3 separate regions of the Homo sapiens genome follow, and all the other regions are reported to be linked to region 3. Evidence: microRNA targets listed by miRTarBase, many of them from high-throughput screens and not tested one by one. Region 3 holds a microRNA gene; each other region holds the end of a gene's coding sequence.

Region 1 (3,155 bases), not on the chromosome of region 3:
GCTCCTTTCGGTGAAATTGGGTTATGAAATGTATGCTTTCAATCCAAATGTAACTGTTTTTACTAGCTAATTTTCAGAAACAATCATTGGGAGGGGGAAGTGTTCTTTGAATTAAGAACTAGTCATTGCAGCTTTGGAATACTGTCGAGCCAGAAAATATCTGCCTCCATGTATTAAAACATTAAATAAAGTTGTTCACTTTTTTGTCTTTTGGTTAGCATTAAGTCAGTTTTAGACAGAGGGAGAATTTGAAATAGTAGAATGGTGGTTGGGTTCAGGATCGTATTTATTAGTCAGTTAACCTAGGATTGGTTTTATTTATTTTTTTTCAATTGGTCTAAAGAATGGTGATTTTGGTATTATAGTCTTACCCTACAAAATCCTTTTGCAGACCAAGTTTTACAGGAAAACTCCAGTGATTTTCAATCAAACATTGCATAGGTAAATATTTTCTCAAAAAATATAAATTCCCAATAGCAAATACTGATATGTTGTAATAATGCTTTCTATAGCAGTCAATGGCTCTGACTTAACTCCATGGAGGCTGCCATTTGGGCACAGTGAGTTGCCTTTAGTCCAGCTTGGTTGTCTCACTTCCTGCCCACCATGAATAGGAAAAGCAAGAGACTTCCCCTGTGCTCCCTTTTCTCAAATGCCATTCGAGGGACACATTGTGAATGTTTATGTTAAATTTTTTTTAAAAATGCCTTGTTTAGCTTTAAAAATACGAAGTAATTTTGCAATTTTTGAAAAACACTAGTTTTCCTTTAAACTTAATTTTTCATGTTGATCCTGAAGAATCCGTTAAAATGGTAGCACAAGAGTCTGGCAAGTTGGTACTGCAGAGAAAAGGGGTTAATTGAGGCTTGTTTGGAGTCGGGATTCCCCTTTCCCAAACATGCGTCTCGCCACTTGGACAGCAGCCATTTGTACTCGTATACTTTTTAAACTTTTTCTTGGAATACTATATTTTATTTGACTGGTAGTCTGATATTACTCCTAACTTGTCAAATTGATCTCTTTGCAGGTAACCAAGGAGCAGTGAACAGCAGCTACTACAGTAGTGGAAGCCGTGCATCTATGGGCGTGAACGGAATGGGAGGGTTGTCTAGCATGTCCAGTATGAGTGGTGGATGGGGAATGTAATTGATCGATCCTGATCACTGACTCTTGGTCAACCTTTTTTTTTTTTTTTTTTTTTTCTTTAAGAAAACTTCAGTTTAACAGTTTCTGCAATACAAGCTTGTGATTTATGCTTACTCTAAGTGGAAATCAGGATTGTTATGAAGACTTAAGGCCCAGTATTTTTGAATACAATACTCATCTAGGATGTAACAGTGAAGCTGAGTAAACTATAACTGTTAAACTTAAGTTCCAGCTTTTCTCAAGTTAGTTATAGGATGTACTTAAGCAGTAAGCGTATTTAGGTAAAAGCAGTTGAATTATGTTAAATGTTGCCCTTTGCCACGTTAAATTGAACACTGTTTTGGATGCATGTTGAAAGACATGCTTTTATTTTTTTGTAAAACAATATAGGAGCTGTGTCTACTATTAAAAGTGAAACATTTTGGCATGTTTGTTAATTCTAGTTTCATTTAATAACCTGTAAGGCACGTAAGTTTAAGCTTTTTTTTTTTTTAAGTTAATGGGAAAAATTTGAGACGCAATACCAATACTTAGGATTTTGGTCTTGGTGTTTGTATGAAATTCTGAGGCCTTGATTTAAATCTTTCATTGTATTGTGATTTCCTTTTAGGTATATTGCGCTAAGTGAAACTTGTCAAATAAATCCTCCTTTTAAAAACTGCACTCTGTCTTGTCTGTGCTTCAGTGTCATGTGGACTGAGTCTTGGTGCTCTGTGCCCACCTGGGGCCTAGGGCCACATCTCTGGCTTGGCAGTTGAGGCTGTTGCGTAGATGTCTTCAGTCTTCCCTCCAGTGCAACTGAAGGTAAACTCGTCTTTGGGGCCCTGGTGGAAGGGCTGTATGTCATTTGGCTGCACAGGACCTGATCTGAACTGCCTGTAACTCATTAAGCACTTGCACAAAACAAAGGGGGAGGCGCCAGTGCCCTCACTGCATGCCTGCATGTCTTTGAGGCCTTCATGCTTGGCTGGGAAGGTGCCGGAGGCAAGGGAGGTGTGATGAATATGTGGGTTTCTTCTAGCTCATAAGCTCATAGGTTTGTTTTTTTTTTTGAGGCAGAGTTATATTCTGTTGTCTCAGGCTGGATTGCAGTGGCGTGATCTCAGCTCACCTGCAACCTCCACCTTGTGGGCTTCTGCCTCAGCCTCCCAAGTAGTTGGGGTTACAGGCGCCCACCACCACTCCAGGCTAATTTTTTTTGTATGTTTAGTAGACACGGGGTTTCACGATGTTGGCCAGGCTGGTCTCCAACTCCTGACCTCATGAGATCTGCCCACCTCGGCCTCTGAAAGTGCTGGGATTATAGGCTGGAGCCATTGCCCAGCCTTCACAGATGGTTTTCAAATGGAAGTTTTGAACTTCTGTATTTTTGGGTCATTCCTAAAAATCAATTCCACTTGGAAGCAAAATTCCATGTAAGTCTCCTAAGGTAGAACGATAGGTAGAGATTGAGAGCTAACATGAGAAGTTTAAATGAACTCTTAAATATATCACGTTTTGGTAGTTCGAAGCTCCAACATGATGATAGCAAGTATTCAAGCTGCTTCCAAGTGGTGTACCTGAGCGAGTTAGAAACGCCACACTTGGAGACGAGTTCAGGAGTCCTTTATTAGCCGGCGACCGAGAGACGGCTACCGCATGAAAGTATCTCGGCCTCGAAGAAGGAGCTAGATTTTCTTTTATACTTTGGTTTGGAGAGGGGAGGGGGATTCTAGCTGCAGCCATCTTAGGGAAGAAAAACAGACAAAAAAGTTAAAGACAAATGGTTACAGGAAAACAGTTCCAGGTGCAGGAGCTTCAAATTCATCACAAAGTGACAGGTGAGGGGGCTCTGGGTGTTATCTACCGGACAAACATGGGGGCTTGATGGTACCATCTCTGAGTAAATTGCTGGGAACTGGACATCGCTTGCCTCAGCACCTTATCAGTTAACTGCACTCTTTGATACGTTGAGAGCTTGCACAAGTTAAAGTCCTTGAGGAAAGGGGGGTGGGTAAGGAGCCCTTGAT
Region 2 (3,155 bases), not on the chromosome of region 3:
GAGAGAAACCTTACAAATGTAAAGAATGTGGCAAAGCTTTTAACCTATCCTCAACCCTTACTGCACATAAGAAAATTCATACTGGAGAGAAACCCTATAAATGTGAAGAATGTGGCAAAGCTTTTAACCAATCCTCAAACCTTACTACACATAAGAAAATTCATACTTCAGAGAAACCCTACAAATGTGAAGAATGTGGCAAATCCTTTAACCAGTTCTCATCTCTTAATATACATAAGATAATTCATACTGGAGAGAAACCCTACAAATGTGGAGATTATGGCAGAGCTTTCAACCTATCCTCAAATCTTACTACACATAAGAAAATTCATACTGGAGAGAAACCCTACAAATGTGAGTATGGCAAAACTTAATTGATCCTACAAGCTTACTACACATAGGAAAATTCATACTGGAGAGAAACTACAAATGTGAAGAATGTGTTAAAGCCTTTAACAAGTCTTCAACTTTTTCTGCACACACGAGGTATTTTATACTGGTGAGAAACCTTACAATGTAAAGAATGTGGCACAGCTTTTAACTAATCTTCAAACCTTACTGAAAGTTGAGAAAATTCGTACTGGAGAGAATCCTACAAATGTGAAAAATGTGGCAAATCCTTTAACTGATCCTCAACTTTTACTAAACATAAGGTAATTCATACTGGAGAAAAGCCATACAAATGAGAAGAATGTGGCAATGCCTTTAATCAGTCCTCACACCTTTCTACACATAAGATAATTTATACTGGAGAGGAACTCTATAGTTGTGAAGAATGTGGCAAAGCTTTTAACCAATCCTCATACCTTACTATACAGAAATTCATACTGGAGAGAAAGCCTACAATTGTGAAGAATGTGGCAAAGCTTTTAACCTTCCTTAACCCTTAACTGTAGATAAGAAAATTCATACTGGAAAGAAACCCTACAAATGTGAAGTCTGTGGCAAAGCTTTTAACTGATTCTCAACTCTTACTACATGTAAGAGTATTTATACTGGAAAGAAACCCTACAAATGTAAAAAACGTGGCAATGCCTTTAACTGGTCCTCACACCTTGCTACATATAAGACAGTTTATACTTTGAGAGAAACCCTGCAAATGTGAATAATGTGGCAATACTTTAAACCAATCCTCAAACCTCACTAAACATAAGATAATACTGAAAACTTTACAAACCTGAATGATGTGACAATAATTTTGACAACACCTCGAACTTTCTAACATAAATCATACTGGTGAAAAATCCTAGAAATGTGAAAAATATCACAAAGCCTTTAAATGGTTGTCACACTTGATTGTAGGTAAGAATCCATACTGAAGAAAACTCCTGGAAGTGTAAAAAATGTGGCAACACTTTTAATAAATGCTCACCCCTTATTGCACAGGAAAGCATTTATACTTCAGAAAGATTGTACAAATACAAGGAATGTGGAAAAGCCATTATTATCTGCTCAGATTTTACTCAACATTAGAGAGTTAGTACGTAATAAAAGCATTATAAATGCAATTTTTGTCAAGAGATCTTTCAGAAAATATAAGCCTTTAAAGTGAAGAAGAGGAGCCAGTTGTGCTGGCTCACATCTGTAATGCCAGCACTTTGGGAGGCCAAGGTGGGTGGATCACCTGAGGGCAGGAGTCTGAGACCAGCCTGGCCAACATAGCAAAACCCCATCTCTATTAAAAATTTTACAAAAATTAGCTGCGTGTGGTGGCAGGCCCCTGTAATCCCAGCTAATTGGGAGGCTGAAGCAGGAGAATTGCTCAAACCTGGGAGGCGAAGATTGCAGTGAGCTGAAATCACACCACTACACTCCAGCCAAAGCAACAAGAGCAAAAACTTCGTCTCAAAAACAAAACAAAAAAAGAGTATTCATTGTGAGGACAAACAATACAAATACGAAGAGGGTTGTAGTACCTTTACTTGTATCACAGATACTTTTGTACCCATTTTGCACTAGAGGAAAACCATGAAGCAGTTGCTCAAATGTTGTTCAACACCAGAAAATTTATATTGGAGAAAAGCACTGTAAATGTAATGCATTTGTGAAAACATTTTTTAAAAAACTACAGCTTAGAAAATACCAGAGGCCTCATACTAAAATATATTTTTGCAAGTGAAGTAAATATAAAAATAATTTAATCCAAAATTAAGTCTATATAAATATCAGAGAATTCACAGTAGAAATATCTAAGGTACTGACACTTCAGACATTGCTGAGTATAGAATCAGAATGCTGAGTATAGAAAATAATTTAAAACTAAAGTTGGTAGGTAAATAATGTGTATATAACTTTAAAAGAAGTAGAATTTTTTTGTAGATGTATAATTACATTCAAATTATATTTTTTCTTGAAAAATTAGTTTTTGAAAAGCAAATGATGTAATTCAACTCAAATTCATGCTCTTCATTCCTATTGTATTCACATGTGAAAGCATGTGATTAATTTTTCATGCATCAAAGATATGAGAAATCATTTCTGTTAGGTCGGTATTATTTATGACACTTTCTATGAAAGAATAAGGACATTAAAATGTAAGATGCATGATGAAAACCTGAGTGAAGAGGCTGTTTGTGTTTAACTTATAATATTGAGTGATCCATGAAGTAGGTTTTCAGAGCAATATTCTTCTGCATTATAGTAAGAGAAAACCATTTTTAATCTTAGTTAAAATTAAAGTGAATTAGTAGTATATCATTTTACTATTTGTACTTTTATGTAATAAAATGCAATGTGTTTAAAAATTTTTGGATTATGCGTGAACTTAGTTTTTTAATTAAACTTTTTTTAACATGTTAAAACTATTGTGCATTCAATGAAGTGTTTTCATGCCACTGACTTTACCTATCCCACATTACTCAAGGGTTTAGGTAAAAGAGGGTAACAGTATACTACTTGATAACATAATGGGCTAACATCTCTAATAATTATTTTTGCTAGTGACTTTAAACTGCTAATAAAGAATATTGTTCCCATAGGTTAGATTTTTATTCTTTTTAAAATTTAAACTTATTTCTCTTAATTTTTGTGGATACATAGTATGTGTATATCTTTATGCCATGTATGGCATATTTTGATACAGGCATATAATTTTATGTATTAATCACATCAGGGCAAAAGATGTATCCATCAACTCCAGCATTTCTCCTTTGTAT
Region 3 (3,155 bases):
GGAATACAGTGGCGCGATCACGGCTCACTGCAGCCTCGAGCCTCGAACTCTTGGGGTCCAAGCGATCCTCCCATCTCAGCCTCCTAAGTAGCTAAGACTACAGGCTCACTACACCACACCCAGCTAATTTTTTTGTAGGGACAGGTATCTCGCTATGTTGCTCAGGTTGGTCTCCATCTCCTGGGCTCAAAAGATCCTCCCGCCTCAGCCTCCCAAAATACTGAATTACAGGCCTGAGCCGCAGCACCCGGCCATGCCGGGTGCACCTTCCTAGGCCGTCCGCAGACCCAGGTCAGGGGCGAAGGCGCGCTCGCCCATCCCTGGTCGTCACTGCTTGGCTTGCGGGGGGTGGGAGATAGGGGTGCGTACCTGTAGGCCTGGGGGCACCCGGGGCGGGGGGGTGGTCGCCGAACTCTGTGCGATCACTGGAGGAAGGGACTGGGGGTCATTTGAGGGATGAGGAAATGGAGAGGGGGCGCCGCAGCCGGTTTTGAGGCCCAAGGGGCAGCCCCCACGTGGCTGCGCGGACTCCCTCCGGAAGTGCCCGAGTTCAGATGCTGTGTGACCGCGCACGCGGGGCGAGCGGCGCCCTCTCTGAACCTCCTGCCTCTCCCCTGTCTAGTGGGGCCCCAGTGCACTTGTAAAGTGGAGAGACCTGACGACCCCCCACCCCCAAGCGCTCCACTCACGCTGTTGTGATTCCTAAACCATCGTGCCCGGAACTCAGTGAAGCTCCCAGAACGTATTACATTGTATTAAAATGGCTTGTTTATCTCCACGTTGCATCAATGCCCTCGGGGCCAGGATCCTCCGTTGCCAGACTTCCCGGGAACACTTGGAATGCCTCCTCCACCTCGGACTAGCAGTGGCCTTTGGCCTCAGTCTCCCCAGTTGACAAAGGGGGGTAATCTGCACCTCCAGGATCACTTTGTGAATTACTTAAGGAGCGGGCTTGAGGCCAGCACTCCCCTGCACTGCTACATCTCCATCCCCATAGCAAAGGCTACATTTTATTTACTAGCATTTATATTTGCCTTGTGTTTTTCCCAGATCTAGGTGCAAACAGCACCTGAAAAGCGTTTGTTTATTTCATGAGAGAAAAGGGGTTCCTTACTCTCTCCTCCTCTCCCTCTTCATGCTCTCTGGTTCCCTGCCACCTACCCCACCCCCGACTCCAGGTCCCGGAAAATTTGCCAAGGGTTTGGGGGAACATTCAACCTGTCGGTGAGTTTGGGCAGCTCAGGCAAACCATCGACCGTTGAGTGGACCCTGAGGCCTGGAATTGCCATCCTCCTGCCGGTGACTCTGACCTTCCAGATCTAGGGGGGCCTGGGGAGCCCCCAATCCAGCCTGGGCACGTCCCCTCCCCTAGGCCACAGCCGAGGTCACAATCAACATTCATTGTTGTCGGTGGGTTGTGAGGACTGAGGCCAGACCCACCGGGGGATGAATGTCACTGTGGCTGGGCCAGACACGGCTTAAGGGGAATGGGGACTGGGGACAGGACCCCCCACCGCCACAGTCACTCAGCCTGTTTTTTGCCCTGACCCCAACCACTCCTCTTTGGAGAGGAGAGCTGGTGTCTGGAATCTGGATGGGCTCTGGCTGGATTTGGGACTAAATATTAGAGGGTTGGGGGTAAACAGGCTGGGGCAGGGCAGCTAAAATCCCCTTTTTTTTTTTTTTTTAAGACAGAGTCTCACTCTGTTGCCTAGGCTGGAGTGCAGTGGCCCAATCTCAGCTCACTGCAACCTCTGCCTCCAGGGTTTGAGTGATTCTCTGGCCTCAGCCTCCCAAGTAGCTGGGATTACAGGCATCTGCCACCACAGTGGGCTAATTTTTGTATTTTTAGTAGAGACGAGATTTCACTGTGTTGGCCAGGCTGGTCTCAAACTCCTGACCTCAAGTAATCCTCCCCCCTCGGCCTCCCAAAGTGCTGGGATTACAGGCATGAGCCACTTTGCCTGGCCTAAAACCCCTTTCTGAAATGTGGGTGGTAAGTTCTGCTCCGTGGAGTGCTCCATAGTTTTGTTTTTTAAATTAGAGACAGGATCTCGCTCTTGTCACCCAGGCTGGAGTGCAATGGTGTGACCTTAGCTCACTGCAGCCTCTAATAACTGGAGTCAAGCGTTGATCCTCCCGCCTCAGCCTCCCCAGTAGCCGGAACCACGGGCACGCACCACCACACCTAGCTTATTTCGAAAAAGTGTTTTTGTAGGAACAGGGTCTCAAAACGTTGCCCAGGCTGGTCTCCAACTCCTAGGTTCAAGCAATCCTCCTCGGCCTCTCAAAATGAGCCACAGTGCCTGGCCAATAAAAGTTTCTTAAATGAATGGATGGGTGGATGAGCTGTGTAAGCGGCACAGCGTCTCTCCTCTGTGTCCAAGTCCTGAGCACACCCTCCCCTCCTGGGACTGAGCTGAGATCTCATCTCGGGGAGGACACTGAAGACCTGTAGGTACTAGGGGTCCCCTCCTAACAGCCCAACTTGCTATCCCCCACCTCCCAACTCCAGAGGGTTCTTTCTCACCCCTCTGCAGCCCCCGCCAGGAAAGGGCTCCCTCCCCAGCACCTAGCCTCAGGGGGCCCCAGTAACTAGAAGAAGGAGGCAGATGTGGTGCTTTTTGTTGTTGTTGTTTTGAGACAGAGTCTTACTCTGTTTCCCAGGCTGGAGTGCAGTGGCTTGATCTTGGCTCACCGCAACCTCTGCCTCCTGGGTTCAAGCAATTCTTCTGCCTCAGCCTCCTGAGTAGCTGGGATCACAGGCACCCGCCACCATGCCCAGCTAATTTTGTGTGTGTGTGTGTGTGTGTGTGTATTTTTAGTAGAGACAGGGTTTCACCATGTTAGCCAGGCTGGTCTCGAACTCTTGACCTCAGGTGATCCGCCTGTCTTGGCCTCCCAAACTGTTGGGATGACAGGCATGAGCCACCACTCCCTGGCCTGGTGCATGTCTTTATAAATAACTGGATGGGCAGGTGGCTTCACACCTCAGTTTGCTCATCCATTCAATGGGGGTTCCACTAAGACAACCGATGTGAAAACTCTTGGAGGGAGACCAGAGCTGGGGGCCGGGGGGCATGATCCTTCCCCCCTACCCCCGCAACCAGCCCATGAGCCTGGGACTACCACACTCCTTTCAGAGACAGCTGGAG

What was found. Region 3 holds the annotated microRNA hsa-miR-181d-5p (AACAUUCAUUGUUGUCGGUGGGU, at 1,394-1,416, shown strand). A microRNA usually pairs through its seed, bases 2 to 8, with sites in the 3' UTR of a target mRNA and lowers its output. Matches are read on the target gene's strand: a 7mer-m8 pairs with bases 2 to 8, a 7mer-A1 pairs with bases 2 to 7 and ends in A, and an 8mer does both.
Region 1: miRTarBase lists HNRNPH1 as a target of hsa-miR-181d-5p. Seed matches in the 3' UTR shown: 7mer-A1 at 1,139-1,145.
Region 2: miRTarBase lists ZNF107 as a target of hsa-miR-181d-5p. The part of its 3' UTR that is shown has no 7-base or 8-base seed match.

What each region holds. Positions count from the first base shown.
Region 1 is chr5:179,612,832-179,615,986 of GRCh38, reverse strand. It overlaps HNRNPH1 (heterogeneous nuclear ribonucleoprotein H1), which reads left to right. Exons shown (of 14, transcript NM_001257293.2): 13 at 392-441; 14 at 1,028-1,809. The coding sequence ends at 441. The region is part of intron 4 of LOC128966623 (a long non-coding RNA gene); the gene reads right to left. Among named protein-coding and RNA genes, the nearest start is that of HNRNPH1, 9.3 kb to the left of the region's middle. RefSeq lists an enhancer at 2,100-2,159.
Region 2 is chr7:64,708,283-64,711,437 of GRCh38, forward strand. It overlaps ZNF107 (zinc finger protein 107), which reads left to right. Exons shown (of 4, transcript NM_001282359.2): 4 at 1-3,155. The coding sequence ends at 374. Among named protein-coding and RNA genes, the nearest start is that of MIR6839, 31 kb to the left of the region's middle.
Region 3 is chr19:13,873,517-13,876,671 of GRCh38, forward strand. It overlaps MIR181D (microRNA 181d), which reads left to right and starts at 1,359; the gene lies at 1,359-1,495. MIR181C (microRNA 181c) reads left to right here and starts at 1,183; the gene lies at 1,183-1,292. It also overlaps a transcript of NANOS3 not described here.